Homo sapiens: one gene and its partners. The protein of the gene in region 3 interacts with the protein of the main gene of each other region in a pairwise test. Each region holds a gene or a part of one and is shown on either strand. Other genes may lie near its edges.

Evidence for each region.
Region 1: the proteins of CRYBA4 (region 3) and CCDC33 interact in binary tests that used the Homo sapiens proteins (3 or more experiments, as listed by UniProt).
Region 2: the proteins of CRYBA4 (region 3) and EFEMP1 interact in binary tests that used the Homo sapiens proteins (3 or more experiments, as listed by UniProt).
Region 4: the proteins of CRYBA4 (region 3) and MIF4GD interact in binary tests that used the Homo sapiens proteins (3 or more experiments, as listed by UniProt).

The regions. Positions count from the first base shown.
Region 1 is NC_000015.10:74,330,014-74,337,176, forward strand, and holds the end of CCDC33 (coiled-coil domain-containing protein 33), read left to right. Parts: intron 1-175; coding exon 176-341; intron 342-649; coding exon 650-738; intron 739-967; coding exon 968-1,099; intron 1,100-1,189; coding exon 1,190-1,283; intron 1,284-2,665; coding exon 2,666-2,832; intron 2,833-3,207; coding exon of another isoform or gene 3,208-3,309; intron 3,310-3,867; coding exon 3,868-3,954; intron 3,955-4,961; coding exon 4,962-5,075; coding exon of another isoform or gene 5,076-5,159; exon of another isoform or gene 5,160-5,483; coding exon of another isoform or gene 5,484-5,498; exon of another isoform or gene 5,499-5,911; coding exon 5,912-6,040; 3' UTR 6,041-6,128; downstream 6,129-7,163.
Region 2 is NC_000002.12:55,920,519-55,928,836, forward strand, and holds the start of EFEMP1 (EGF-containing fibulin-like extracellular matrix protein 1 precursor), read right to left. Parts: upstream 3,265-8,318; 5' UTR 3,193-3,264; intron 2,422-3,192; 5' UTR 2,381-2,421; intron 1,930-2,380; 5' UTR 1,923-1,929; coding exon 1,842-1,922; intron 1-1,841. UniProt on the Homo sapiens protein: Binds EGFR, the EGF receptor, inducing EGFR autophosphorylation and the activation of downstream signaling pathways. May play a role in cell adhesion and migration. May function as a negative regulator of chondrocyte differentiation.
Region 3 is NC_000022.11:26,624,395-26,631,448, reverse strand, and holds the end of CRYBA4 (beta-crystallin A4), read right to left. Parts: intron 5,969-7,054; coding exon 5,827-5,968; intron 3,162-5,826; coding exon 3,019-3,161; intron 1,110-3,018; coding exon 962-1,109; 3' UTR 780-961; downstream 1-779. UniProt on the Homo sapiens protein: Crystallins are the dominant structural components of the vertebrate eye lens.
Region 4 is NC_000017.11:75,267,943-75,276,743, forward strand, and holds the start of MIF4GD (MIF4G domain-containing protein), read right to left. Parts: upstream 3,290-8,801; 5' UTR 3,202-3,289; exon of another isoform or gene 2,955-3,201; intron 2,781-2,954; exon of another isoform or gene 2,625-2,780; intron 2,304-2,624; 5' UTR 2,254-2,303; coding exon 2,172-2,253; intron 1,528-2,171; coding exon of another isoform or gene 1,405-1,527; intron 251-1,404; coding exon 141-250; intron 1-140. Other genes in the region: SLC25A19 (mitochondrial thiamine pyrophosphate carrier), read right to left, coding at 5,509-5,697. UniProt on the Homo sapiens protein: Functions in replication-dependent translation of histone mRNAs which differ from other eukaryotic mRNAs in that they do not end with a poly-A tail but a stem-loop. May participate in circularizing those mRNAs specifically enhancing their translation.

The DNA of each region.
Region 1 (7,163 bases), on a different chromosome or scaffold from region 3:
AGGATCAAGTCATAACCACCCTTCCAGGGAGCTGCTAAGACTTAGGGCCATGGCTTGGGGCTCCTGGTGCTCACTGGCCTTGTGGGGGACCCACTGACTTTCAAGTGTAGATGTGGATGTGGGACCAGGGTTGCTATGGGGCAGTGGGCTCAGCTCTGGGCTCTGGGATCCACAGGAGATGAACAACTACCGGCGGGCCATGCAGAAGATGGCAGAGGACATCCTGTCTCTGCGGAGACAGGCCAGCATCCTGGAAGGAGAGAACCGCATACTGAGGAGCCGCCTGGCCCAGCAGGAGGAGGAAGAGGGGCAGGGCAAAGCCAGTGAGGCCCAGAACACGGGTGAGGATGTGCAGGCCACCAAGGGCACCCGGGCTTCTGCCTGGGCCCAGGCTCCAGGTTGTGCAATAGGGTGGCTGGGAGCTTCTCCCAGATGTGCATGCTGCTGGACTCTGGCAAATAGGAGCCCCTCGCCCACAGACACTCACACAGTCCCTGCCCAGCTGGGTCCTCTCAGGGATGGGAAACAGAGAATCCAGTCCCGTCCCAAGCCCTCGGGCCAAGGGATATCTGCCTTCCTGCTACTGACCATGCTGATTTGAGCTGGGAGAGGCTTCCTCCCTGAGCCAGCTCCCCAACCCACCTAACAGTGTCCATGAAGCAGAAACTGCTGCTGAGTGAGCTGGATATGAAGAAACTGAGGGACAGGGTGCAGCATTTGCAGAATGAGCTGATTCGAGTGAGCTGGGGCTTGTGGGGGCAGAGGGGAGGGAGCTATGGTGGGGGAGCATCGGGGTGAGAAGAGTCTGGGAGGAGAAGGGAGAACAGGCACAGAGGGAATGGAAGCACGGAAGAAAGGGGGACCAGCCTGGTGGAGGATTCAGCAGAGGGGCCGAGGTGGACCCTCAGGGCCAAGGTGGACTCCCAGGCACCCATTCTCTCCCCTTCTCTCCTCCCCCATCTCACAGAAGAATGATCGAGAGAAGGAGCTGCTCCTTCTGTATCAGGCCCAGCAGCCACAGGCCGCTCTGCTGAAGCAGTACCAGGGCAAGCTGCAGAAGATGAAGGCGCTGGAGGAGACTGTGCGGCACCAAGAGAAGGCAGGTGGCAGAGGGGCTGCCCCCGAGGCCAACTGATGATGGCAGAGTAGGGAGCCCCTGGGCCAGCCCAGCCTCTGCTCTGCTCTCCAGGTGATCGAGAAGATGGAGCGGGTGCTGGAGGACAGGCTGCAGGACAGGAGCAAGCCCCCTCCTCTGAACAGGCAGCAGGGAAAGCCCTACACGGGTGGGTCCACACCCTGATGTGATCAGCTCCCCAGCTTCTGCTCCACCCCTGGAGGCCCTGCCTTCCTGGAGCCTCTCAGCTTCAGGAGAACCTGCGAAGAGGTCCCCTGCACTCAGTTATGTCTGTGGGCCTGGGAGACCCAGGATTGCCCTGCTCCCCTCCTCATTCAGGCGCCCCATCCAGAGATCCCCTGAGCTCCCTCCTTCCCTGGAAGCCCCTCAGAACACAATTGGGATGCAGTGTGAGCCAGGCTAGAAAGAGGGTGGACCTCCAGAGGAGGGCCCTGCAGACTAGCACAGCAGAGAGGGCCTTCCCCTGAAGAAGGGCCACCTGGGGCAACACTTCCCAGCTCCTAGCCCCAGGATCCGTCGAATTATTTCCCCATACCGCCAAAGATTCTGCCTCTGCAAAGCAAACAAACAAAAATACTTTGATTAAATCAATGATCTGGGGCCAGGCGCAATGGTTCATGCCTGTAATCCCAGCACTTTGGGAGGCCGAGGAGGGCAGATCACTTGAGGTCAGGAGTTCAAGACCAGCCTGGCCAACATGGTGAAACCCCATCTCTACTAAAAATACAAAAATTAGCTGGGCATGGTGGCGGGCACCTATAATCCCAGCTACTTGGGAGGCTGAGGCAGGAGAATCACTTGAGCCCAGGAGGCAGAGGTTGCTGTGAGCCAAGATTGTGCCACTGTACTCCGGCCTGGGTGACAGAGGGAGACTCCGCCTCAAAATAAATAAATAAATAAATGATTTGGAGGTTTTCTTCCCCATCGATATTAACCAAAAGCCACCTAAAACTGCCAATCAGCCTCTGATAAGCAGAAAGGACCAGGTAACACCATATCAGGCCAGCCCAAAGCAAGGGATTTCCCTGAGCCTGCCTGTGCAACCTCACCCAGGGCCCCTGTGTGCCCAGCCCTGTGCTTAGCCTTCACCGCTGAGGGTCTCAGGGGCAGGAGGGTGTTTCTAGGAGCCTTTAGAATGCAATGAAAGCTGGGCTGGCCTTTCAGGAAGCCTGAGGTCATCCAGGAGTCTGGATGAGACTGAGAAGGCAACCTAGGGAGGGGAAACAGCCAGATCAAAGGCCCAGGGAGTGAGAAGAATTCCAGGATCAGAGAAGGGAGGAAGAGAGAGAGGTGAGGAGCTGAAATACACTGAAGACAAATGAGGAGTTAGAGAGAACGTTGAGGTCAGGTTCTAAAGAGCCTAGAAGGACAGCCTGTGTGCACCTGATCCCACTGGTGGTAGGGAGCCATTGAAGGCTTGGGAGTAGAGGGGAGGGGTGGCAGATTGAAGCAAAATGCTGGAGCAGATCAGGACAGGGACATGGGAAGCAGGAGAGCCCATCTCACCAACATCTGTGGCCGTGTCTCTAGGCTTCCCTATGCTCTCAGCCTCTGGCCTTCCCTTGGGTTCTATGGGAGAGAACCTGCCGGTTGAACTTTACTCGGTGCTGCTGGCAGAAAACGCGAAGCTGCGGACGGAGCTGGATAAGAACCGCCACCAGCAGGCCCCCATCATTCTGCAGCAACAGGCCCTGCCGGTAAGAGGCCCTTGACCTGGGCCTGCCTATGCCGGTCACTGGGTGCCCAGAAATCACCCATGGTACAACCCAAGTTGAAGATCAAGACCAGGAGCTAAGCTTCCCAGGGTCTCCAGTCTGCCTGGGGGCTCCTGGAATCAGCTCTCAGGCCTTGGTCTTTTTCTCCTGCGGAATGTGTGTCCCCGAACACTTCACCTTTAACCTCATCTAGCATCCCAGGAGAAAGCAAGCCCCTTGTTGACCCTTGGTCCCTGAACCCTGACCCCTTTTTCACCTGGCTGGCCTCCACCTGGACCCTACACAGGCCTCTCAAAACTCCCTTCTGGAGCATTCCCTGGTCTTGGTGCAGCCTTGGAGAGCCCTTTTCCATCCCAGGTGGACCCCGGGGAGTTGGGAGCAGGAGGAGACTTGACAGAGAGGCTACAAGAGACGCATGGCCCAGGCCACTCAGAGTGCACAGAGACCCTGCCCGCACAGGTGGGTGGCCCAGGGCCCAGAAATGCCCAGGCCCTGCTCCACCTCTGAAGATGCTTCAGGGGCCCCTTGCTTTACATAAACCCCAAAGCAGAACATTTGGAATCACAGAATATTGGGCAGGGCAGGGGCACAGGAGAGTTTTCTCTCCATCCCAGGACTCGCCGGAGGTGAGTTCTGTTGAAAGCACACCTGACTCATGGACATCCAGGTAAAGTGTGAGGGATGAGGTCAACTGCCTCACAGGTTCTTCACTTCACTCAAAGACTCCCAGTGCGTTAATTATAGGGGGCTCCCTAATGCATTTTACATTAAAAAAAATGTTGTGTCAAAACTTCGTATTCTCAAAATCTGTGTGGGAAACAGCTGTGAAAAAAGCACATGCCAGACCCTGTTCTGAACTTCCAGAAGAGGGTTCGGCCCAGGTCTGACGCTCTGCCTCGGGAGCTCAGTCTGAACTCAGGCCTGACTGGTTTCTTCCTCAATACCTTATGGTTTCCCAAGCTCACACTGCCACAGCCTCCAGCTGGGGCCAAATGTGAGTTTGTGCTTTGCCCACAGGATCTCCTCTCTGGTACTTCAGACAAGTTCAACCTCCTGGCCAAGCTGGAACACGCTCAGAGCCGGATCCTGTCCCTGGAAAGCCAGGTGGGTGAGATGCAGGAGTTGATGAGGCTGGATCAGGCTCACCACACAGCCTATAACCAGGGCTCAGTGTGTGAGCAGAGTCTAGGCTCAATCTATGACCAGGATCAAGGCTTAGTGTGTGGCCAGGGTCGGGGTTCAGTGTGCAACCAGGGTCAGGGCTCAGTGTACAACCAGGGTTAGGGTTCAGTGTGTAACCAGGGTCAGGGTTCAGTGTACAACCAGGGTTAGAGTTCAGTGTGTTACCAGGGTTAGGGTTCAATGTGCAACCAGGGTCAGGGTTCAGTGTACAACCAGGGTTAGGGTTCAGTGTGTGACCAGGGTCAGGGTTCAGTGTACAATCAGGGTCAGGGCTCAGTGTACAACCAGGGTTAGGGTTCAGTGTGTGACCAGGGTCAGGGTTCAGTGTACATCCAGGGTCAGGGTTCAGTGTGTGACCAGGGTTAGGGTTCAGTGTGTGACCAGGGTCAGGGTTCAGTGTACAACCAGGGTCAGGGTTCAGTGTGCGACCAGGGTTAGGGTTCAGTATACAACCAGGGTCAGGGTTCAGTGTGCAGCCAGGGTTAGGATTCAGTGTGTGACCAGAGTCAGCGTTCAGTGTGCAACCAGGGTCAGGGTTCCGTGTACAACGAGGTTAGGGTTCTGTGTATGACCAGGGTTAGGGTTCTGTGTATGACCAGGGTTAGGGTTCAGTGTATATCCAGGGTCAGGGTTCATTGTGTGACCAGGGTCAGGCTCTGTCTATGACCAGAATCAGGGATCAGTGTGGACTCAGGATCAGAGCTCAGTATGTTGTTGAAATGTCCATCTGTGTCTTGGTCAGGCTGCCTGACTGTTTGGCCCCCTCACCCTCACCCCGCCACCCCTGAGGTCTCGGGAAGGTGTCAAGCCCACATGGCCCAGAGCTTTGCTTTCTGCCTGGACAGCAGGCTCAGGCCCTGGTTGTCCTGGCCATCAGGGATTAGCCCTGCTGCCCATGGTCCTCCAATTGTCCCTCTCTGTGTCTGCAGTTAGAGGACTCAGCTCGACGCTGGGGACGAGAGAAGCAGGATCTGGCCACACGGCTGCAGGAGCAAGAAAAAGGTTTCAGGCACCCCTCGAACTCCATCATCATAGAACAGCCTGTGAGTGACCCCCCTGGAGTAGCTCCCAGGGGTTCAGGTGGTGGAGCAGGAAGCCACCGCACCCCCAAAGTCACTGGGCCCTGAGAAAAGCCATTGTGGAGCCAACTCCAGGGCTGGGGGTCAGGAGTCCTAGGCTCCCATTCCTGCTCCATTACCAACCGAAGGCTCGGTCTTAATTCCCCCACCTGTCTAAGGGGAACAGAAAACCCCTGCCAAAACTACCCTTTCCCCCATGGGGTGCTGTGAAACTCAAGGAGATGACTGTGGATGAGGGGTCCATGCAGGCATCTCCAGGATGCCCTGACACTGTGCTTTAGGACTGGCTGCGCTCATGGGCAGAGTAGCTTGTGGCCCTACCCCCCTGAATCCATAGAGCCTAAGATTCTCAAATTAGCACACCCTTCTCAGATGGCCACGATGTAGGCTCCACTTTGCCAACTTCCCGAGAACAAACAGGCCTGCTCACAACTGCCCCTCAAGTTCAACCCCGGGACCGCCCAGCCCCGCAAAGCAAAGACCCTGACTTCTCCTGCTCTTGAGCCAGCTGTGCTTTGCCCGTGGCCAGAAGCTCAGCAGCGGCTCCTGGGAAAGGCCTGGAAAGGATGAGGGAACAGGCAAGGAACAAAGGCAACCTTTGCACACTCACCTGAGCCCTGGGGACCCTTGGAGAAATTAGGTGTCACCTGCTGTGGCAAAATGGGTTTAGAAATCTTTGCCAGGTCATGGCCCACTGGATTCTGGATACTCTGAGGCCTGGTTTGTCAGGCAATATGCCCTTGAGCAGGTCACCCCCTGGGAATGGGGGGTACTCACGCACCCCGCTTTGCACACCACAGAGTGCCCTCACCCACTCCATGGACCTCAAGCAGCCCTCAGAGCTGGAGCCCCTGCTGCCCAGCTCAGACTCTAAGCTCAACAAGCCCTTGAGCCCCCAGAAGGAGACCGCTAACTCTCAGCAGACCTGAGCCCCAGAGCAGGCCTCCTTCCCTGTGTGCTGGGGAGTCTCATCACCGCCCCCTAAAAATGACGTTATTAAATGTTGTAGCTCTGTGAGCATTTTCCTCTTTCCTGGAGCAGGGCAGCCTGGGGGCCCTGCTTCCTCCTCCTAGACCTCACTCTGGGCCTGGGCCTGGGTCTTCTGCTGCAGCCTTACAGCCTCCCGCCTGCCCCAGGAGCCAGCATCTTTGGAAAGCCAAGGGCCACAGTGGACCCAGGAGGGTGGAGAGAAGAGGCCTTCCAAAGCAGGGGCCAGGGAGACGGGCCCCTTCCAGACCCGGAGAAGAAGCAAGGCCACCAGAGACCAGCTCTGTTGGGAAATACGAGGGAGGCTTGTCCTTTTCATCTGCCCCAAAACATCTATCATGTCTGATATTCCTTCTTTCAAGTTTGGTTTGTCTGTCTCTTGGAAAGGGAAAGACTTGGAGGCTTGAAGCCTTCCTGTGGCAGTCACGTATCATTGTGAAATACTCCATTAAGCCACTAGGCTGAGCTGGCAATGATGTGTCCAAATGTAGCCGGGGCAGGAGAGCAGATTGGGCCAGGGGAAAGGAGGCACCTACAGGGAGTCAGGAGGCCCAGGTTCTGGGGGCAAACAGGCTGTGTGACCTCAAGGGACCCAAGCAACCTCTCTGGACTTCAGTTTCCCCATCTATTCCATGTAGAGCTTGACCTCATTGGCTGTAAGCCTCTTTCCAGCTATAACATTTCTGAGTCAAAGCTGACTCAGGACCAGAGAAGAAAAAGGACACAGGAAGGAAAGACAAAGACAACAGGGAAGAGGATTTTGTGGTGGGGAAAGCAGAAGGGCTCCAAGAGTGGATCCAGATCCCACAGCTTCGGGCAGGAGAGGCCAGGCCAGCTGGACCACTGGCCTCAGCTGGACTAGCTCCCCCACCTGCCTGCAGGACTTAGACTTGGATAGCCGAGGGCCAAGAGGAATCAGGTCAGGAGTTGGGAGACCCCAAGGGATTAGGGGGCGGAAGTCGAGACCAGTGTCATTCAGTCCAAATGACAAACCAGCGGCTCTGCTGCAGAATAGTATCCCCACCTCCCACCCTTGGACAAGGGGGCGCAAGCCCCCAGAGCAAG
Region 2 (8,318 bases), on a different chromosome or scaffold from region 3:
GCTATTATGTGGATACGAGCCCATTCTTCTGAAAAGTATCTTTCAAGCCAGGCAAAAATGGCAGTTCACTTGAATAATTTGTATGGTAAATAGAGAAGACTTGCAATTTGTTTTAGGTATTTACTTCTAGACATTTAATGTCAGTGTACTATTAAGTAAGCCTAGACTGAGTTTAGCTTCACCACTTGGCTATGTAGCCCTAAGCAAGTTAGACACTCTCTCTGATCTTCAGTTCTACCATTAGTGGAAGGAAGATGATGCCACTTACCTTACACATTGCCGCAAGGATCAAAGGAGATCGTGTCTCCACAGCGGGATACTCAGAAATAGTTATTATCTTGTCCTTTAACCATGAATTATTAGGCATACAAAATTTAAAGGAGAATAGGCCCAATCTTAGCACAAAAGGGTAACATATCTGGAAAATTTGTTACAATAATAATGAACCCTAGTTAGTGGTCTTAAAACTATCATGTTTAAGCCACAGGGAACCTTCTCTGGTAAAAATGAGGAAGATTTAGGTGATTAGCAAAGGGAAGGGCATAGAAGATAAGCAACTGGAAAAGAAGTAAAATCTTTTATGAGATGATTATAAAAGTGGGTAGTGAATTTAATTTTAGCTCCCTGAGAAGGCAGTAAGTTTAGTCTGAATAACAAAACATTTTCATTTTAAGATAAACAGCACATGCCTTCATTTTTCTTGCTTAATTTATCTTCAGCAGAGGAAGCAACTGCATTTAACATGAAGTTAACAAAATATTTGTATTAAGCTATTTTATTTATAGTGGATCTGAACAACAGAAAGGAACATTTGCCAGATGAATACTAACATTCTAGGGATAATGTGGTACCAAAAAGTGAGATAATGTTTATTATCAGTAATTGACATTAGTTCATTTTTAAGAGTTTTCTTTTCAAAAATTTTTCACATTCTTTCGAGTAGGATTACTTAATTTTAAACTGGGAGCAGTAGAAAAATGTGCTTTTCATATTCCAATCCAGGACAAATGTCATTTGCCTAACACTGATTAAAGACAAGAAAACACAGAACAGAGGTGCAAACAAACTCACCAGAAGTGAAGTCAGTACTGTCCTTCTCTGTTCTCACCACAACTATTTGTAGCAGTGGGAGGGGTCAGGTGATCTTTTTAATATTTTATTAAACATTGGTTACACCTATGCAACTAACTAATCAAATATTACTTGGAAATATCAGAGACGCTAATTAGAAAATGCAAAACGGAGTTGCACACATTACGTTTTAAAACCACTTTAGCCAATATGCATCCTGGTAACACATAAACTGTTGTCTGCCTTTATTTATTAGAATTATCAAGTTATACAAAAAGAATGAATATATAGCCTTTATAAATTCAATAAAGGCCACTTACTTGAGAATGCATGTCATGTACACAAAGAAGGCCATGTGTCTTTATGGTGTTTAACGTTCTTACTTGACTTGAGTCTTATTCTGCACGTATTGGTTTTATCTGCATGTGGTAGGAGTCCAGGTTTTCCAGTTCCTTACACCCATTAATTTGTTGAATGTTTTGGAAACATGTAACTTTCTTTGGTTTTAGTTTTTGAACGGATCCCATTTTTAGCCCTGCACAAATGATTACATGTTGGTTCCTATCTTAGGTGGTGAGCCCAATGAACTTTTGAAAGGATCAAGGGGGCAATTTACAACGAATCTTAGATATGAAGCATGAATGAAGTGTTGTTTAATTTATCACCCTCAGCAGAGTATAGCCCAAATACACTGGCAGGGGTGTGTAAAGTCTTTTTTTGTCACAGAATCCCGCTGAACCGTACTTATTTCAAATTCCATCACCCCTTACCGTGTACGTGATGGTTTCTTCGGTGTCCTGTGACTTGACCAGCGCCAGAGTCAGCATAGTTAGGAAAAGGGCTTTCAACATTGTGAATCTCAAAGAAAATACAGGACAAACTAATGTTTAGTATCTGCTGCGGGGAAAGTAACAAAACTTTAGCAGTGAGCACAAGCGAGGAAAGGAGGGTGGGAGAGGCTGAGGCTCCACCATACTCAACTTCCAATCTGCTTTCTCATCTCCCCTCCCCCTCCTGAACCTTCTCGGTAGCCAACGAACGAGGCAGCAAAGACGTAAAAACTGCTGTAGAATTGCATTTCACGTTACTCCATCCTGCTACGCTGTTTACATACAAAAGACATTCAGCGTGCATTTTATACTGCACCTACAAAGCAGGCTGCAGAAAGAGGGGGTCGAAAGGAAAAAACAGTAATCCATTTCAAAGGGGACGGTGCATTTCCTGCCCCCCAGTCCCACACCCCGGGGGATGGAGGTGGGGCTGCAAAACTCTGTTCTCTAGAACGTTAAGGCTTTCCCAGTATACTCACCTTGAGCTAGCAGAGTTCCTTGCACAGCACAGCAAAAATACCTGTGAGCCAATATGAATTGCCTTGGCCTCAAGCTTTTTATTTTTTAAACAAAATAACAAAACAAAACTCGGAGAGCAATCTTCCAGTTCTAGTAGAATACTAGACCTTCTCACATGTCTCAGAGCTTCTCACATCCCCCAGCACAAACTCTCAAAGTGGCATTTCCACGCCTTTCTCTGCGCACAGCTTTGTTTAAAAGTCCCAGGTTGTGTGGAGGGGCAGCCCAAAGCGACTGATTCTCTTTTGTCTTATCAGTCTGGGTCCCCGACACGCTACCTTCGGTTTCAGGCTGCCTAGGACCGGAACCAGGGATCGCACCGCAGCCCAAGGTACCAGTTTCGGGCGGGCGGCCTGGCCCGGCAGGGAGATGAGGTCCCCTTTCTTAACAGCAAGCTAACGCGGCGGTCCCCTGGAGCTGCTCAGCGTCCCAGCTTCTAACCAGCTCCTATGGAATCCAGGTGCGGCTTAAATCTCGCACACTGGTCCCCTAAACTTTCAAAACCACGTTTATGGGCAAAGCCCTGCCGGCTGGTTGTCGGCGCGCACACACATGCCCATCCCAACAGATGTCACCCGAGTACTCGCACTTGCTGACAGATCGCATTCCGAGGCTGCACACCTCCACCTCCCTCTCTGCCCGAGACACCCTGCACAGTCCAGGGCAGTTCTCGGGTACTCAACACCCCTCAGCTCACCCCACCTCACTCTCCCGCGCGCGGCCCAGTGAGTACTGGGCTCGCTCGGGGCGACCCCCCGTTGGGGGCTCCTACCTGTGCGGCCGCGCTGCGCTCCGGGCCCGGGCAGCGAGGGGAGTGCGCAGGGGAGGGCAGCCCCGTGGGTCTGATCTGGCGAAGTCCGGCAGCGGCCGCGGCGGCAGGAGGAGGAGGAGAAAGGGAGGGAAAGGGGGAGGGCGAAGGGGGGCGGAGGAGAGAGCTGAGGGAGGCGCGAGCGCTGAGCCCAGCGTTGCGAGCCCGGCGGTAGAGCGCGCAGCGCAGCGAGGTCCGCGCCCCCTGCTCCAGGGGCCCTCTTTGCCGCCCCCGCTTGCCCTCCCTTGCCAGCTCCTCGTTTCCCAGACTCGCGGGGACCCCACGCCAGAGAGGACACGTTGACATGTGATGTCCTGGATGCGCTTCAGCCTTGGGGATGCTCCCACTCTCTAGTGCGTTTTCTTCTTCTCTGAGGAGGGGAACACAGCATCTCCCTCAGAGACCAGAGGGTTCTAGAAACTGCTGTTACTTTTTTTCCCAATAAGTGAATGCTAGGAGAGTAAATTAACCCCCATTCATAGAACTGTTTCCTTTACCTTTTCTTTCGGATTTTTTTTTTTTTTTGAGGAGGTGTCTGCTTCCACAAATGGAGAAAAATGAGAATTCATCCATTCAACAAATATTTGCCACCTACTGTGTGCTTAGTGTTGGGAATAGGCCAAATAGAACTTGCACTAACAAAATTGTGAGGTGGGGTTTGTTTTATGGTCTCTCAAACCTCCCTTTATGATAACAAGTGTTGGCAAGAATGGAGAAAAGGGAATGCTTGTATGCTGTTGGTGGAATGTAAATTAGTACAAACATGATGGAAAATTGTATGGAGGTTTCTCAAAAAACTGAAAGTAGAATTATCATATGATCCAGCAATCTCATTTCTGGGTATTTACTGGGAAGATTTGAAATCAGTGTGTTGAAGAGACGTCTGTACTTTCATGTTTATTGCAGCACTATTCACAATTGCCAAGATATGGAATCAACCTAAGTGTCCATCAAGGGATAAATGGATAAAGAAAATGTGGCATATATGTGTGTGTGTATACAAATATAATATATATTATATATATAAACACATATATATATAAAATATGTACACACATATATTTTAGATATATATGCGTTTTTAAGGCTAAATAGTATTCCATTGTGTGTGTGTGTGTGCGCGCGTGCATGTGTATATGAGCCCATTCTTCTGAAAAGTATCTTTCAAGCCAGGCAAAAATGGCAGTTCACTTGAATAATTTGTATGGTAAATAGAGAAGACTTACAGTTTGTTTTAGATATTTACTCCTAGACATTTAATGTTAGTGTACTATCAAGTAAGCCTAGACTGAGTTTAGCTTCACCACTTGGCTATGTAGCCCTAAGCAAGTTAGACACTCTCTTTGATCTTCAGTTCTACCATTAATAGAAGGAAGATGATGCCACTTACCTTACACATTGCTGCAAGGATCAAAGGAGATCGTGTCTCCACAGCGGGATACTCAAAAATAGTTATTATCTTGTCCTTTAACCATGAATTATTAGGCATACAAAATTTAAAAGAGAATAGTATTCCATTTTATGTGTCTGTGTGTATGTGTGGAATACTATTTAGCCTTAAAAAAGAAATTCTGTCATTTGTGACACCATGGATGGAAGTGGAAAACATTATGCACAGTGAAATAAGCCAAATGTAGAAACACAAATACCACATGTTCTCAAGTATCTGAAAGTAACTTAAAACAATTGAACTCATAGAAGCAGAGAGTAGAATGGTGGTTACCAGAGGCTAGGGTTGCAGGGAATGGAGAGATAACAGTCAAAGAGTGTAAGCCTCAATTAGATAGGATGAATAAGGGTTGGGTGCAGTGGCTCATGCCTGTAATCCCAGCACTTTGGGCAGCCAAGGTGGGCAGATCACCTGAGGTCAGGAGTTCAAGACCAGCCTGGCCAACATGGAGAAACCCCATCTCTACTAAAAATACAAAAATTAGACACGTGCCTGTAATCCCAGCTACTCGGGAGGCTGAGGCAGGATGATCGCTTGAACCCCGGAAGGCAGAGGTTGCAGTGAGCTGAGATCATCCCTCTGAGTGACAGAGTGAGACTCCATCTAAAAAAAAAAGAGAGGAAAAGTTTGATTTTTTTAAAGTTCAATTGCACGGTGTCGTGAATAAAGCTGATAATTGAGTACTGTATATTTCATTATCACTAAGAGAGTAAATTTCAAATGTTCTCATCACAAAAAATGTCAAATATTTGAGGTGATGGATATATTAATTAGCTTGGTTTAATTATTACACATTGTATTAAAAAATCATAACACCTTGTACCCTATTAATATATACAACTATAATTTGTCAATATATAATAAAAAGTCTCCCTTTTTATGGGTTTCTTTTTTCATCTATAGCTTCTCTTTTCTTCACTTATTGACTTAGTGAAATCTCCAATACTGCTCATTCAAAGTTGGGCATTTCACTTTCACCTTTCATAGTGGAATTTCAGGAATCTGGAGAGAAAAATCTTTTTTTCTGTTTTTATCAAATCATACCACACAAATTGCAGTTACCTCTGAAGGCTCCAACTCTAAAGTCATACTAATAGCTTGCTTCCAAGGCAGCTGTCTTCTAAGAAGCAAATGGCCAAATACAATTTCATGAATGAGAAAACTTACAAACTGAAGGGGTTAAAACTTTGACTCTGTCCTTGAGCAGGAGGCAGAGCTCAGGAGGAGAGGAAAAGCTCCTTTCCTTTCCTGCTGACTCAAGGTGGGAGGGTGGTAGCGACTGCAGGAGAGGGAGGTTATCAGGTGGAAGCTGCTCTCTTTATCTCTGGGGTATCCAGTGTGGGTTACCTAGACATTGCCAGTTTGGTAGCAAGCCACACAGTATTGGACAAGATCAGAGGGGAGGTGTACAACCCTCCCTAAACCTTACTTGAGTATACAGAGTTTTGGTAATTGTATCAAATATTTTTACTATCAAAATTCTAGTGTTTTCCCCCAAGTCATTAATGACCTCCAGATTTTTTTTAAATGGATCTTTACTTTTTGTACAGTAAGAAGATCTGTGCACATGGTTTTTCCTGTTTCTCTTAAACTCTTTCTACCTGTTCCCAGCCACTTTTCCAGAAAAATGGGGTGAAAACTCTCAAATTTATATCTCCAGCCTGGAACTGTTCCTATATATCCAGCTGCCAACTTGCTATCTTCATTTGGACATCTAATGGATGTTTCAAACTGAACACAACTGCTGTTATCATCCCCCAACCTACTCCACCCACCTTCACCATCTCAGTTAAAGCAGTTTCATCTTTCTATTTGCTCAGATTCAGGACCATGGAGTCATCCTTGATTTCTCTTTTTCTGAGATATCCTGCATTCTATCCTTCAGGAAATTCTGTTGGCTTCACCTTCATGATATATCCAGAATGGAACCACTTCTCATCACCTCTTTTGCAACCACTCTGGTCTAAGCCACCACCATTTTCCAACTGTATTATTGCAACATCCTCCTAATTGGTCTCCTTGTTTACAACCTTGTTCTCCTGCAGCCTTTTTGCAGTGGGAGTTCATATGAATGAAATCATAGAGTAAATACTCTTTCGGGTCTGACTTCCTTCACTCAGCATGTTGCTTGAGATGCATCCTTGTTATTAGGTGTATGAGAAACACATTCCTTTTTATTGCTGAGTAGTATTCCATTGTATGTATATACCCTGATTTGTTTGTTTACATCTTAATAGATACTTGGATTGTTTATGAATAAATCTGTTACGGACATTCACTTCTAAGTCTTTGCTGGGATATGTTTTCTTTTAGATAAACGCTTAGGAGTGAAATTGCTGTCATATGGTAGGGGTATGTTTAACAGTATAAGAAAGTGTCAAACTGTTTTATAAAGTGAGTGTGTTATTTTATGTTCTTACCAGCAATATGTGAGATTCAATTTGCCTGAAATCCTTGCCAACTTCTGGTATTGTCAGTAATTTACAATGTTAGCCATTCTGGTGGGTGTGTAAGTGGTATTTCACTGTGGTTTTATTTTACATTTCTCTGATGTCCAGTGATGTTGAATTTTGCTTTTCGTATGCTTATTGTCCATCAATATATTTTATTTCAAATTTGTGTTCATTTCTTTATTTTTTGGTCTTATTAGTTGTAAGAGTTTTTAAAAATAGTCTTCCTGCAAGTCCTCTTCAGATTTACATTTTTCGAACATTCTTTCTAGTCTTTGTCTTGTCTTTCCAATTTGTTAATGCTGTCTCTTGAGAGCAAACATTTTAAATTTTGATAATTTTTTTTTTTTTTTTTTGAAATGGAGTCTCCCTCTGTCACCCAGGCTGGAGTGCAGTGGCACTATCTTGGCTCAGTGCAACCTCCGCCTCCTGGGCTCAAGCAATTCTTCTGCCTCAGCCTCCTGAGTAGCTGGGAATACAGGCGCACACCACCACACCTGGCTAATTTTTGTATTTTTAGTGGAGACAGGATTTCACCATGTTGGGCAGGATGGTCTCGATCTCCTGACCTTGTGATCCACCTGCCTCGGCATCCCAAAGTGCTGGGATTACAGGCGGGAGCCACTGCACCCTGCTGGATGATTTATTTAATGGAGTCCAACTTTATGGATTCAAACTGGATGCATGGATTTAGCAGAATGCAAGTGGAAATTGCAGTAAATTCACCTTCCTAAAATTGCTCTGAGCTCAGAGGAATCTGAGATTTTAAAGATTTGGGCTGGGCACGGTGGTTCACACTTGTAATCCCAGCATTTTGGGAGGCTGAGGCAGGTGATTCACTTAAGGCCAGGAGTTCAAAACCAGCCTGGTCAACACAGCAAAACCCCTTCTCTACTAAAAATACAAAAATTAGCTGGGCATGGTGGTGCGCGCCTGTAATTCCAGCTACTCAGGAGGTTGCAGTGAGCCAAGATCACGCCACTGCACTCCAGCCTGGGTGACGGAGCAAGACTGTTTCAAAAAAAAAAAAGGAAGATTTGAAGATGTATGTGGTGACAAACTCATAATTTTAGAAGAGATTCACAGATGTTGATGATCACACACTGAGCACTATGATCTATGTCTCTGTATCCTTTGGAATGTGTGTCTTAATCAAACATGTACTATCAGTGTGGCTGAGTCTTAAGAGT
Region 3 (7,054 bases):
ATGTCCTGAGCTCAGGAGTTCAAGACAAGCTTGGGCAACATGGCGAACGCTGTCACTACCAAATACAAAAATTACCAGGTGTGGTGGCACACACCTGTAATCTCAGCTGCTTGTGGGGCTAAGGCAGAATTGCTTGAACCTGGGAGGTCGAGGCTGCAGTGAGACAAGATTGCACCACTGCACTCCAGCCTGGGTGACGAGTGAAACCTTGACTCATTAAAAACAAAACAAACAAACAAACAAAAAATAAAATTAAAATACAAAAACCATGTGCTGGGCCATAAAATAAGTCTTAATTCATTGCAGAAGACTTAAATCTTAAGGAATATGTTCTCCGACCACATTGGTCTTTAAAAACACACCAATAACAATAAACACCTAGAAAATCCTAAAGTATTTGGAATTTAAATAACATCCCTTTAAATAGCCCATAGGTCAAAAGAAAAAAAAAAAACCACAAGTGAAACTAGAAAATATCAAACTGAATGACAATGAAAACACATCAAATTAATATTTGTGGGAAGCAGCTAAAGCCATACTTGGAGGGAAATTTATAGCTAAATGACCGTACTGGGTGGGGGAAAGAGAGGCCTAAAATTAATGACCCAGAAGTCTGCCTTAAAAAAAAGCTAGAAAAACTAAGAACAAAGTAGGCCTGAAGTAAATAGAAGAAAGGAAATACTGAAGTTAAGAGTAAAAATCAGTGGAATAATGATAGAGAAAACAAGGCTAAAAACCGGTTCTTTGAAAAGATTAATAAAATTGAAAAGCACAACTAATACCAGACTTTCTCTTTTTTATTCGTTTGAGTTTTTTGTGCTGACTGTGCACGGACCAGTTCACATGGGTGCTGGGTTCACACAGGTTACAGGGGGAGGCAGAAGGAGAGAACACACCACAGCCTCCAGAGCGCCTCCATTGCAGATAAGCACGCATGCGCTCCTCCGTGCCGCACCCCTGTTCACTGCTGGATCCTGCGGATGCTCTGCACCTGGAAGGTCGGGGCATGAGAGCCCCACTCCCGGAAATGTTTGTAGTCACCGGAATGGTGATCGCATTCCAGCACATACTGAAATCCTCGGTAGCCCGGAAACTGGGAGCAAACCCAGCTGGAAAAGAGAAAAGGCAGACAGTTACTCTACAGAGACACCAGCATGGTGATCAACACAGGGGCAAAGGGATCTATGCACACGCACACAATTCCAGCCATCCTGGCCTTTCTTCAGTGCTCACAATGTGCCATGCTCTCTCCCCTACCACAGGGCCTTTGATCATGCCATTCCCTTTGCCAGAAGCACCATCCCAGCCTTTCTTTTCCTAGACAAGTTGTATTTGTCCTTCATGGCTCATCTTAATTATGAGGGCAATCTGACTCGTTCCCCAAATCAGGCCACAGTCCCTTATTATACCTTTGTAGCACTCATGTAATTCGATAGTTTTCAAATTATTTGTAAAATATCAGCCTCCCCTGCCAGCAGGCAAGCTCCTGAGTGTAGGAACGTGTATGTTTTGTTCATCGTTATCACCACCTGCATAAATATATAAAAGTCTAGCAAGGAAGAAGGGGTTCCTAAATATTTGCTGAATAAGTGAACAAGTGAAGGAATGGGAAGTCTTGTTCTTTCCCCTTTCTCCCTCCTTCCTTATCCAGAGGCACTTCCAAGAAAAAAAGCTATCATTTCAATTCATTGATTTTTTTTTTTTTTTTTTTTTTGAGACAGAGTCTCACTCTGTTGCCCAGACTGGAGTGCCGTGGCATGACCTCGGCTCACTGCAACCTCTGCCTCCTGGGTTCAAGTAATTCTGCCTCATCCGAGTGGCTGGGACTAGAGGCATAGCCACGACACCCAGCTAATTTTTTGTATTTTTAGTAGAGACGGGCTTTCACCATGTTGGCCAGGCTGGTCTCGAACTCCTGACCTCAGGTGATCCGCCCACCTCAGCCTCCCAAAGGGCTGGGATTACAGGCGTGAGCCACCGTGTCTGGCCCAACTCATTGATTTCTACTCTGTTCAGGACAAGGATTGGTGTCTGGTTTTCCAAGCCTCCATTTCCCTTTCTGTAAAAGAGGAAGTGAACTCAAGAATCACAAGGGGTCCCTCTTACTCTAAAACAACATGATTCTTTGGTGGTTCCTGAGAAAACTAAAGCCAAAAAAAGAAAAAAAAAAAAGATGAAAAACCCTACCTCCCATCTTTGCCCCCTGCCTACCAGGAGCCAAGGGGCACCTCAGAAAGTGGTTCTGATGTCCTCCCTAAATAAGAATCTCACACCTTAGCCTTCACCTGCCACCTCCTGGGTGGAAAGGAAAGGGCCAGTCAGTGCTGAGTTTGAAGCTGGATTGTTACCTACCTGCTGATGGACTTTGAGCAGGTTGCTGGAGCCACACCTGTGTTTTATGGCTAGGGGCATTCATTCTCCCCTCTTCTAGCCAAAGAGCCTGTGGCCTCTCACTCTCAGCCAAGGTGAGAAAATGAGGCTGAATCTAGCAATGGACCACATGACCAAACCTAGCCAATCAGAACACCCCATTCCTATGGGCATGATGATTGGTTCAGAGTTGAGCACAGGACCCAGCTGGACCAATGAGCACCTTTCTTGGAACCTTTAATAGAATCACTGAGCCTGGACACTGTCTTTCCCTAGGGCTGGATGTAACGATGAAGCCGCCACCTTTGCCTTCACACAGGAAGAGCTTGTCTAAGAATATAGTCACACAGAGGCAGGCAGGGCAACAGGTTGGGGGTTGTGGGGGGAGAGAGATACCTGCTGTAGTACCTGGATCCAGCTATGCTTGAAGCTAATTACAGGGGCTGATAAATATCTTCTGGGCTCAAACCAGTTTGATCTGGGTTTCAGTCCCTCAAATTCTGCCTGATACCTCCCTGTGCCTCAGTGTTCTCCTCTGGAATGTGGGCATCAGAGCACAAAAGTCCCCAGCACACAGTTTTCACAGGAGGTACACCTACCCCTCCCAGTAGCCCCTCCCCTGCCAGGTAGAGCCTTGAATACACTTACGCCCCAGAGTGGACGTGGAAGGACCCTACTTCATTGCCTTCCCATCCCATGGCCTGGAGGGAAGGATAGTCATCGCTCAGCTCTCCTTTCTTGCCCAGGAAGTTCTCTTGCTCGAAGATTGTCAGCCTCGAGTCACGGTGGTTCTACAGGAACAGGGAACACAGTCAGACCAGCAGGCTCCCAGTTGGAAACCCAGGAGCCTCTCCTGGCCTCCACACTCCCTGCCCTTGTCTCCCAAATCAGCCTTCCTTGCAAACCTTTTGGAAGGGCAATAAGGCAACAGGTACCAGAAACCTTGCCATTTGCCCTTCCAGAAATTTCCACAAAGAAAATAATCATGGAATAAATAGGCTGCAAGAATGTTCATCATAACAGTTTTTTCAAAAACAAACAAACAAAAAAAGGAGTCAACTTTTATGTCCAAAATTGGGGATCCAGTGGTAAGCTGAGGCATTACACTGTGGTTAAGAAAAAGGGTGTAGAGGCCCGGCGCGGTGGCTCACGCCTATAATCCCAGCATTTTGGGAGGCCGAGGAGGGTGGATCACCTGAGGTCAGGAGTTCAAGACCAGCCCGACGAACATGGTGAAACCCTGTCTCTACTAAATACAAAAAATTAGCCAAGCGTGGTGGCACATGCCTGTAATCTCAGCTACTTGGGAGACTGAGGCAGGAGAATCGCTTGAACCTGGGAGGCAGAGGTTGCAGTGAGCCGAGATTGTGGCATTGCACTCCAGCCTGGACAACAAAAGCAAAAACTCCATCAAAAGAAAGAAAGAAAGAAAGAGAGAGAGAGAAGGAAGGAAGGAAGGAGAGAGAGAGAAAGAGAAAGAAAGAAAGAGAAAAAGAAAGAAAAAGAAAGACAGAGAATGAAAGAAGGAAAGAAAGAAAGAAAAGGAAAGAAAGAGAAAGAAAGAAAGAAAGAAAGAAAGAAAGAAAGAAAAGGAAAGAAAGAGAAAGAAAGAAAGAAAGAAAAAGAAAGAAGGAAAGAAAGAAAGAAAGAAAAAGAAAGAAAGAAAGAAAGAAAGAAAGAAAGAAAGAAAGAAAGAAAGAAAGAAAGAAAGAAAGAAAGGAGGGAGGGAGGGAGGGAGGGAGGGGAAAGGAAAAGAAAAGAAAAGAAAAAAGAAGGAAAGAAAGGAGGTGTAGAGATATCATCTCAAATCCTTCCTGCTAGGAGGCAGCTGCCACTTACCAACTGACTGAGGTTAGACAGGATTTCTGAGCCTCTGTTCCTGTATCTATAAAATGAAACTAACCCTACCCATTTTTCAGGGTTCTTTTGAGGACTAAATGAAATCAGGAGTTGCAAACTGCTGGGAATGAGGGATTGTTTCTGTTGCAGCCCGCCACGGGTCCCTATATTAGCACAATATCTAGACTGTTTGCAGAATAAATGAACAAATGGACTTATTCACAAAACAGAATACTAGGGAGCTATGAAAAACGATGGAAGTGAGATTTAATCACCTGGACTGATGATTGCGACACATTTGCTCAGTGAGAAAAGCTAGTTTCCAAGCCTTAGATTCATTATGATTCCAATTTTATGACAAAATTATGTGTGCAATATAGATAAGATATATAGATTATACAGATATAGATGTAGATGTTGATTTGGATGTGTATATACATAGAGACACAAATGTATAGGTTGAACATCCCTAACCTAAAAATCCGAAATCCAAAATGCTCCAAAATCTAAAACTTTTTGAGTGACGACATGACACTCAAAGAATGCTCACTGCAGTATTTCAGATTTTGGATTTTTGGATTCAGGCTGCTCAACTGTAAGTATTACAAATATTGCAAAATCTGGGGAAAATATTCAAAATCCAAAACACTTCTGGTCCCAAGCATTTCAGGTAAGGGATACTCAACCCTGACCATAGCAGGATTTTCCTTCAGAATTTTGGATGGTAAATATGGTGACTTATGTCATTTTAAATCAATAAGAATTGAAAAATAAAACACACTTTGTTGTTTTTGTGTTTGTTTGTTTGTTTTTGTTTTTTTGTTTTGTTTTGTTTTGAGACAGAGTCTTGCTCTGGCGCCCAGGCTGGAATGCAGTGGTGCGATCTTGGCTCACTGCAACCTCTGTCTCCCGGGTTCAAGTGATTCTCCTGCCTCAGCCTCCTGAGTAGCTGGGACTACAGGCATGTGCCACCACACTCAACTAATTTTTTTGTATTTTCAGTAGAGACAGGGTTTCACCATGTTGGCCAAGCTGATCTTGAACTCCTGGCCTCAAGTGATCTACCCGCCTTGGCCTCCCAAAGTGCTGGGATTACAGGTGTGAGCCACCATGCCCAGCCTAAAATACACCTTTCTGAGCCTCAATGTTTTCATTGGTGAGATGGGAATAATAATGCCCACCTCCACCCACACTCCAAAAACAGCAGTAAAATGTAAGATCAGGAGCACTGATGCTGAATTAGGAGCAAGAAATGAAACCTTTCCTCTCCACTTGGCCCTACCATCCCTGGTACCCAGATTCTCTCAGGGTCCCTGAATCACAAAAAAAAAAGGGCACAAAACTGGCAGGGGCTCCTATCACAACCAGGGTTGCTGTGAGCAGAGAGTTTAAGGCAGGCTCTGGTCAGATGTTATACGTTCTTCTTCCCAAGAACATTGGTACTATTGCCCCATTTCAAGATGAAGAAACCGAGGCTTGGAGAGGAAAGAGACTGAACAGCCCTTGTCACACAGCTTGAAGTGGCGACATGAGAATTTCAACTCTGGAACCTTTGATTCCGAAGTGCCCACATGAGGGGCTTGGGCCTCCCCGGGATGCAGCAGTGGTAGAACTTACAGCACAGGCCGCAGGCCGGAAGGAGGTGAGCCTCTCGGCGGGGTAGGCCGTGTTGCCGCCCCAGGCATCCCAGCTTGGATATTCGCCTCGTTCCAGAATGTACTGCTGCCCTTGGAAGCCAGCATGCTCAAAGCCCACCCACCTGCAGACAGAGGGTAGAGTGTGCAGGAGGTAAGCGTCCCCCTCACCCTGCATTCTAGACCAGCAATTGGGTCTAGAACGGTCACAGTCACAACCATTCAGGGGTGACTGTGCCCCCAGGAAACACTTGACGATGGCTGGAGACATTTTTGGTTGTCACGACTAGGGGAGGGACTGCGAAGGCCATCTATCGGGTAGAGGCCAGGGATACCACTAAACATCCCATAATGCACAGGCCAGCCTTCCCTGCAAAGGATGATCCAGCCCGAAACATCAGTAGCGCCAGAGTTGAGGAACCCAGCTCTAGACCTCACTTGCTGTGTGTCCCATAGGTAGGGAAACTGCTTCACACAGGTGCCCTGACAACCTTGCTCCTCCGTCCGTGTCCACAGAGGCCAAGGAGGCAAAGCTGATCACAGACTGATCTCACCTTGGTGGAATTCCCCGTGATCCTGCCAGGGTGTGGGAGACGGGCAGTCTTGCAAGGAGCGACCGCATGGCCATCTCTCATTTTCCTCCCTCTCTTGTGGGAGGCTGCCACGAGGCAGCCCCTCATCTGCCTCTCTGGCCACTCTGAGATGTGGGGCTTTCCACCTCGCCTCCCCACAGGCGACAGCAGCAAGCTATCGTTGAAGCATGGAAGCAGCTCTTCAGCCACGGGGTTCCTACCATTCCTAATGCCTGTCATTCAGCCCCCTTTGTTTTGGTGTCGTCCAGTAGGACAAGGGACACAGGAGGCTGCACCTTGCCTTTACTGTCTGTATAAGTAATAAACTGTCTGAATCTATCCAAGCTCATTGTCTGCTTACTGGCTGAGTCTGTCAGCCTGCTGGACATACCCCTAGAAAGCCTCTGTTCCCATCTGACCCCCATTCCCCACCTGCACAAATCAGAAGCTAAAAGAGTATTTACTAAAGCATGAGATGTGCAAAAATCACCCAAGATGACCTCAGGTGGCACTCACAGGTGTAGCATTAAGTGACTCCAAATCTCCTATCTACTTTCCAAACTTCTACAACCTTCTATCCAATATGGTAGCTACTGGCCACATCTCCTGTCTATCTACTTTCCAACTTTCTAGAACCTT
Region 4 (8,801 bases), on a different chromosome or scaffold from region 3:
CCCCTGTAACCCCACCCATCCTATGCCTCTCTCTCTCTTTGAGCTAGACCCTGTGCATCTCTGTCCTGCAGGCCAGGCCTTCTGCCCACTCCTGAAGCACCTTCCTCAAAGCAGCTTCCTTTCCTCTCCCAACCCCCAACCTGAATGATGGCGTAGCACATGCGTCCTGCTTCCTTGCTGAACACACAGTCCTGCAGAGAATGGTCCACAATCACATTGGCCACTTTCTCCAAGTCCACAGCACCCGGATCTAGGGGTAGAGATAGGAGGGGAGTCTAGAGCTGCTGCTTTATCACATTTGTGTCCACCCGCTTCTAAGAATTTGAGATATTTACAGTAGAGCACTCATATGCTTGAAGTGAAAGAGATCAGAAATCATACAGAGGACAGTGGCTCCAGTGGTGCAATTGGTTAGCGCATGGTACTTATAAGAAATCATGGCCGGGCGCAGTGGCTCATGCCTGTAATCCCAACGCTTTGGGAGACCGAGGTGGTTGGATCACCTGGGGTCAGGAGTTTGAGACCAGCCTGGCTAACATGGTGAAACCCCATCTCTACCAAAAATACAAAAATTAGCCAGGTGTGGTGGCTCGTGCGTCATCTCATGTCATCCAAGCTACTTGGGAGGCTAGGGCAGGAGAATCGCTTGGACCTGGGAGGCGGAGGTTGCAGTGAGCCGAGATCATGCTATTGCACTCCAGCCTGGGCGACAAAGCAAGACTCCGTCTCAAAAAAAAAAAAAAAAAGAAAAAAATAAAAGAAATCATACAGAGGGCCTGGTGTGGTGGCTCATGCCTGTAATCCCAGCACTTTGAGAGGCTGAGGCGGGTGGATCACCTGAGGTCAGGATCAGGAGGTCAAGACCAGCCTGGCCAACATGATGAAACCCCGTCTCTACAAAAATACAAAAAATAAGCTGGGCACGGTGGCGGGCCCCTGTAACCCCAGCTACTTGGGAGGCTGAGGCAGGAAAATTGCTTGAACCTGGGAGGCGGAGGTTGCAGTGAGCCAAGATCGTGCCATTGCACTCCAGCTTGGGCAAGAAGAGCGAAACTGTCTCAAAAAAAAAAAAGGGAAAAGAAACCGTACAGAGGACAGTAACCATACAAACAGCTTTAGCTGTCTTGTCTTCTGGTTGCCCAGTCAGAGAAAATGGGGAGGGTTATGTGGCTAGTAGGGACCAATCAAAGTAAGAATGTAGTTTCTCAGGAAACACATCTTTTCCTGGCACTAGGTTGAGGAAGGAATACTGACCAGGACATGCCTCCAACAGCAATTTCACAAGAAAAAGTGTTCTTATACTACACACATGCAAACCCCCAACAAGAGAGGGCCACATAGGGCCTCCCAACAGGCTCGGCTTGACACATGATGGGTGTTGCTAATTATTAGTTGAAGACAAACCTCTGTACTGCGTGTTACAGCGGGAAGGCATCAGGCGAGAGCAATTACTATAGCTCCTCTGGCAAACGGAATATTCTCCATCTTCTGTCTCAAAGCAGGCAACTGTGCATTCAAGAGACGGGGCTATGGCAGCACAGAAACCAGCAATTCAAATGTAAGCGCTTCAAGGGCAGGAGCCGTGTTCTTTTTTTTATGGTTAAACTTTTTTTTTTTTTTTTTTTTTTTTTTTTTTGAGACAGGGTCTCGCTCTGTAGCCAGGCTGGAGTGCAGTGGCAGGATCATGGCTCATGGCACCCTCACCCTCCCAGGCTCAATCAATCCTCCCACCTCAGCATCTTAAGTAGCTGGGACCACAGGTGCCTGCCACTATGCCCGGCTAATTTTTCTTTTCTTTCTTTTTTTTTTTTTTTTTGTAGAGATGGGGTTTACACCATGTTTCCGGGACTGGTCTTGAACTCCTGGACTCAAGCAATCTGCCCACCTTGGCTTTCCAAAGTGCTGGAACTACAGACATGAGCCACTGCGCCTAGCCCTATGGTTAAACTTTTAAAACAGTCTTTACAGTCTGAGAGGTGACTGTGATTCATACTCCAAAATAATGGCCTCAATGTAGCTTGTCTTCCAGTTCAAGAATTACGTTGCCGACTCCTATCGTCAGAGAATGAGGGGAGGGGTGGAGGCATTCACCAGGCTCAGCCTCTGGTGCTGCCCACAGGGGCCCTTCTCTGTAGCTCCTGACCCCAGCTCAGGAGGGGTCCCGTGCTCACCTTTGAGTGCTGTCTTCAGCAGCTGCTGGGTCTCTGCATCAAAGGACTGGATTTTATACTCCTCTCTACTGGGCTCCCCCATGACTAGCCAGCCCCGGTAGCTCTTGACTGGGCTGGGAATAAGGACAGCACCTGAGGAGAAGAGGCGAAGGGAGCGGCCTCAGGTGTGGAGCGCAGGGCGGGTTCCGTCCTGCAGGCCCTGGACGGGGCTGACGGCGCGCTCGGGACAGGGACTCCTGGGCGGTCCGTGGCGTGCGGTGGTTGGCTGAAGGCCCACCAGGCTTGGCTTCTGGTGGGGACTGGGCATCAGCCAGGCACCTGCTGCTCAGTTTAGAAATCCCTCGCTTGTGGGATTACACAAGAGCGAGAAGCTGAAGCAGGAAAGCGCCCACCCTCCAGTCCCAGCAGGAGGCAGGAGTAGACTGGGGCAGGGTGTGTGCGGGCGGACGTTACAGTTGCTTAAATAAACCGGCCTGACGTTGCTGGCCCAGGAAGATGCCGGGTGAGGGCCAGGCTGGGAACTCCAAGCGGTGCGACTCTGTCCCCAGCAGGTCTCCGAGCCCCTCTCCCCAACCCTCTCTTTCTGGCTTTCGCCGAGTCCTTCGGTCTCAACACCCGCCGCTGCATCCCCCGGATGGGGCCGGCCTGCGTGGGTGGGGACGCAGGCGCCCTGTCCGCCGCCCCTGCCGGGAGCAGCCTGAACTCCCCAGACCCGTGCCAGCTTCTCCCTGGGACAGGCTGGTCGGATCGGCTCCCGAGTGGCAGTAACCCGGCCCTACGCACTCGAGACTCCTAATTCCTGAGCTCCATTCTGGAGCCTTCCTCTTACTGGGGGGCAGGATGATGCGCCCCGGAGAGGTGGCTCCCGCCGGAGGCTCCCCTCTGGCCGTAGGAGGCGCCTTTAGGGTCTCCAGCCCTCGGCCGTTCCCCCCGCGCCCGGAACGCCCCTCCCGGAGGCACAGGGCGGGCTGCGGAGCCCACGGCCCAGGGTCCCGCGGGCGGGAGAGGCGGCGTGGGAGCCGGGACCCACCTGCCGGGCCGGTGGCGCGCGCGCGTGCCCGGGGCCGCTCGGCGCCTGGGAGCGCGCAACCAGCGTCCGGCGCTGCGGGGCCCGCCGTGAGCTCATCTCCTCGCGCGGCGCCGGGGAAGGGTCGGCTCGCCCGCGCCACCTGCCGGGCCCCCGGGGCACTGCCCTGGCCTCCAGGCCGCCCCGGAAGCCGCGCCGCCTGCGTGGGACCCTGCGACGCTGCCACCCAGCCGCAAGCGGAACTCGCTTGGCTCGTCACCCCTTCACCCGGTGCGCCTGGGCCGTGTCCGGGCCCACGCCGGACCCGCCGGCACCTCGATCTTGCGCGTGGCCCCGCACCCAGCCCTCCCCGGAGCTCAGGTGCACTGGGCCGGGAGACACCGCTGGGCTGCGCGGCGTGGGAAGAGCCTGCAGAGCGCGTGGTGGGGACCTGGTGGCAGGAGGAACAGCATCAGCCCTGGTCGCACCACTTTCCCCGCTCCCCCAACCCAGGTAGAGAAGGCAGGGGCTGCAGGGCCGGGGCCAGCCACAACCCTCTCCCGCTCCAAGGAGGACATGGGCGAAGCGAGTTTCAGGTCATAGGGGCAGCCCCGAGAAAGGGGCCCCATTGGCAACTCGCGGCCGTCGGTTGTTGCGAATGCCCCTGAAGTGGCGCGGACCCCACCGCCCGGCGTCTGCCCTGGGTGACAGGAGGGCACCTAGAAGTGGGGGAAGAACTGCCGCCGCTCCTGCCGCGCGACCGGGAGGAGCGCTGCCGGCGCTGCCCGCGTTCTCGCCTCCTTTTAAAAGAACCGCCAAAGTGGTCACCGAAAACGGAGGAGGAAGAGAACGCTCAGCTGCAGCAAAAGAAACCAATGGGCAGGAAAGATGAAGAGAAGAAACTTTAACGGAATTTCATAAAAAATGCATTCAGGCAGCTGCATCCTCGTGGCCCCCGCCGCAGCCTGGACCTTGGGAACCAGCAGCCCAGAGCCAGGAAGCCCCAGCATTCAGGGCCCAGACAGACCCCAAAATCCCAGACCAGAGGCAGGGAAGGATGGTGCGAGGAGGAGCCCAGGACCCACACGCCAGGGCCAGGGCCAGCGCCGGCTCCCAGTGGGTGCCTCTTTCCAAGGCTGGAGAGGGAGGCAGAATGGAGGGCTTCCCAGGTCGGAGCAACCCTACAGGCCGGGCAGATGGAGGGAAGGGTGGAGGTCATGTTCTGGAGACCTCCCCTCAGCCTGGAACTGGTTTCTCCTCTGCCTCTCCGCCTGTGGGTGTCCCTCTGCTCTGGTAACACCCCAGGCACCAGCTGTGCCCTCACCAGGCTACGTGCCCGCCCCTTCCTTCTGCCATCCCCATCAGTGGGCTGCTTCAGAGCCACGGCCCTTCTGGGGCTACAGGGGAGGATGCACCCGCAGCATGCTCTGCACTGAGGAGCAGGCAGTGGGCGCTGATGCCACCTGTCCTGCTGATAGCTCCTCACCCAGCAAGGCTGACCCAGCTCTGGGTGAAAGAGGAGTCAGTGAGGTAGACTGGGGAGAGGCTGCACCTTCACCCACGCCTGCCCACAGCATGGCCCATCCACTTCCTGCACGGGCGCTGGGATCTGCTTTCCATGGAGCCCCACGGCCATGACCAGCCCGGTCCTGGGAGAGGACAGCCTGGGTGGTGGTGTGTCTGCAGACACGAAGGTCTGGGCACGGGGCCCAGAAAGTGACTGGCTCAGCCTGGAGTCTCCCCCAGCACTAGAAGCAGAGCTGCCAAGGGCTGCCGCTATGGAGAACATGGGATTTGAGGAAGGCAGGAGTCCTTTCCCTCATACTTTGTGAGTAGGCAGATGTGCCAGGGGAGATGGAGTAAGATAAGGAATGTGTGTTTAGCTTTAATGTCTATTAAATAGGTTGGAAAAACAGGCCAAGTGTAGGGACCTGACTCCTGCAAAGGGCCTACCGCAGCCCTCTGCACTCAAGCAGCAGCCCCATCCAGACCAGGAGTGTGTTCTGTTCTCCTGGCAGGCAGGGCTGATAGGTGTAGGATGGCGTCTGTTTCCTTTGGAGTGTGGGCTGGTCAGAGGAGAAACAGCAACTTCCTGCTCCTTCTCACTGTGTCGTTGGCTCACCATAGACCACGTCCTGCATTCCCTCTGATTCTCTCATGGGGAGAGCCCTGGACCTTCTGGTGGTGTCCCAGCTGGGTGGGTTCAAGGCTGCTACCCCGCTTGGGGCAGCTGGCCTGCAGGGAAGGGCCAGACGGCACCTCTCAGTGGAGACTGAATCTTCCTTCCTTCAGGAGGCTGCCTCCAGGGAAGACCTGGGGTCCTTCCTGCACTCAGCGCTGGCTGGCTGTCCTGTTCATGCAGTGGAAGACATTACAGAAGAATTCATACGAGAAGAACATGAAGCCTGTGGAGAGGGCAGCCTTCAGCAAGCTGGGGGACAGGCCCTTGAAGAAGCCCAGGGCGCCTTCCTTTTGCAGCACCTGCTTGGCACAGTCCATGAGGCCCTTGTATCTCCGTACCTGGGGAGAGGAAAGGGATGAAAATATGGATGCCCGCTCTGCTCCCATCAACACAGCCCCTGGCACATCACAGATCTTAAGAAGTACTTGCTGGACAAAGAAATGAATGCAAAATAGCAAATTATTTTATTTTTTCGTTGAGGCAGAGTCTCACTCTGTTGCCCAGGCTGGAATGCAGTGGCACAATCTTGGCTCACTGCAGCCTCTGCCTCCCAGGTTCAAGTGATTCTCCTGCCTCAGCCTCCTGAGTAGCTGGGATTACAGGCACACAACACCACGCCTGGCTAATTTTTTGTATTTTTAGTAGAGATGCAGTTTCGCCATGTTGGCCAGGCTGGTCTTGAACTCCTGACCTCAGGTGATCCACCTGCTTCAGCCTCCCAATGTGCTGGGATTACAGGCATGGACAACCATGCCCAGCTCAAAATAGCAAATAAATTAATTTCATTCTTTCTACTGTAATTGGGTTAAGACTGAACAGATGACAGGCCTAGAAATCAGAAGCTGGACAGCGCTCCTTCCTGCCCAGGAAGAACGGCTGCCTGTGGCTCCAAAGGATCCAGCAATGGCTCCAGAACCTCTTCCCAGAGGCATCTCTGACCCTTCATCCCATCCCACCTGATCCCCCTTGGGCAGCAGATCTGAACCTGGCCCTCAGTAGCTCTCAGCCGGGCCTCCCTGCCTCCAGCCTCACCCTCTCCAGCTGACCTCACACACTGCTGCCAGACATTCATCCCCAGGCACAACCCTCCTCAAGCCTGGCTTCCCTCCAAAAGCTGCAGTAACTCCTAGTGACGACATCATGAGAAATCAAGTCCAAACCCCAAGATCTGCCGTTTAAGGCACTGCACCATTTGGCCTTGATTTCCCTCCCTGATCTGACCTCCACTGGTCCTCCCACGTGCCCTTCCCACCTCTGGCCAAACTGGATTACACTAGTCTTTGTTAGCAGTAAGGCCTCCCTCTGCCATCCTGGGCTCTCACCATCGGCTCCCTGTCCAAATTCAAACTGTCCCTTCATGCTGGGTGCAGTGGTGCATGCCTGCAGTCCCAGCTACTTGGGAGGCTGAGAGGGGAGGATCGCTTGAGCCCAGGAGTTCGAGACCAGCCCAGGCAACAGAGCGATATCCCATTTAAAAAAAGAAAGAAAGAAAAGAAAACAAACTCTCCCTTCAGGACAAGTTGGTAAGTGGAAAAGGGAGGTTACAAACCTTGTATACAGTGTATCCGTATTTTTGTTAAAATGTACATGTGTATTTATGAAAAGAAATAAAACTACACTGAAAGGTTCCATGTGGTTATCTGTGGTAGTGAAATTACAAGGGATTTTGGTCTTTTTTTTTTTTTTTTTTTTTTTTTTTTTTTTTGAGACAGAGTCTCACTCTGTCGCCCAAGATGGTGTGCAGTAGTGTGATCATAGCTCACTGCAGCCTCGAACTCCTGGGCTTAAGCAATTCTCCTGCCTCAGCCTCTCTAGTAGCTGGAACTACAGGCACACACCACCATGCCCAGCTAATTTTTTAATTTTTATTTTGTAGAGACGGGGTCTTGCTATGTTGACCAGGCTGGTTTCAAGCTCCTGGCCTCAACTGATTTTCCCATTTTGGCCTCCCAAAGTGCTGGGATCACAGGCGTGATCCACTGCAGCTGGCTTGGTCTTTCTTTCATCTATCTTAAATTTTCTAAAGTTTCCTACAAAGAAAATGCATTATAACTATAAACCCAGCTCTTTCTCTTCCCCCAAGGAAGGAATGCTCTCTCCCTACCTTGCCTCCCATTCCATGCCATCCCTCTCCTCTGACATTGTCAGGCATATTTTTTCACACCTCCGCATCTCAGGTTCCCAGGATACAGAGGGGAAAGGCCTGGAATTGCCCATCCTTAGCCTACCCCTAACCCTACCCACTGACCAAAAGAAAGGGAGTATGTAAAAATCTGAGCAACTGAGGAGTGACTACTGAGACTACAACATGACTTAGCACGGGGCTTCTCTTAATGGCCAACTCTCCTAGTGCACATAAAATACAACTTAGGCCCAGGTGTGGCGGCTCATGCCTGTAATCCCAGCACTTTGAGAGGCTGAGGCGGACGGATCAACTGAGGTCAGGAGTTCAAGACCACCTTGGCCAATGTGGTGAAACCCTGTCTCATATGGTGAAACCCCGTCTCTTCTAAAAATACAAAAATTAGGACATGGTGGCGGGCGCCTGTAATCCCAGCTGCTTGGAGGCCAAGGCAGGAGAATCGCTTGAACCAGGGAGGCGCAGGCTGCAGTGAGCCAAGATCACGCCACTGCACTCCAGCCTGGGCAAAAGAGCGAGACTCCGTCTCAAAAAATATATATATATATATGGCTGGGCACAGTGGCTCATGCCTGTAATCCCAGCACTTTGGGAGGCCGAGGCAGGTGGATCACCTGAGGTCAGGAGTTCGAGACCAGCCTGGCCAACATGGTGAAACCCCGTCTCTACTAAAAATACAAAAAATTAGCTGGGCGTGGTGGCACGCGCTTGTAATCCCAGCTACTTGGGAGGCTGAGGCAGGAGAATTGCTTGAACCCGGGAGGCAGAGGTTGCAGTGAGCCGAGATCGTGCCATTGCACTCCAGGCTGGGCAACAAGAGCAAAACTCCGTTTCAAAACAAAAACAAAAACAAAAAAATACATATATATATAACCTAGTTGCTCAAATTCACCCAATTCCAGAACAGCTACAGCAAAACCCCTTTTCTGTGTGCTTTAATATTTGGGGACCTTCCTTGCTCTGTTGCCCAGGCTGCAATGCAGTGGTGCAATCGTGGCTCCCTGTAACATCCACCTCTCACGTTCAAGCGATTCTCCTGTTTCAGCCTCCCGAGTAGCTGGGACTACAGGCGCCCACCACCATACCCAGCTAATTTTTATATTTTTAGTAGAAACGGGGTTTCACCATGTTGATCAGGCTGGTCTAGAACTCCTGACCTCAGGTGATCCACTCGTCTCGGCCTCCCAAAATGTTGGGATTACAGGAGTGAGCCACCACGTCCACGCCCAGCCTCTGGACATATTTTTTTTTGAGATGGAGTCTTGCTCTGTTGCCCAGGCTGGAGTGCAGTGGCGCAATCTC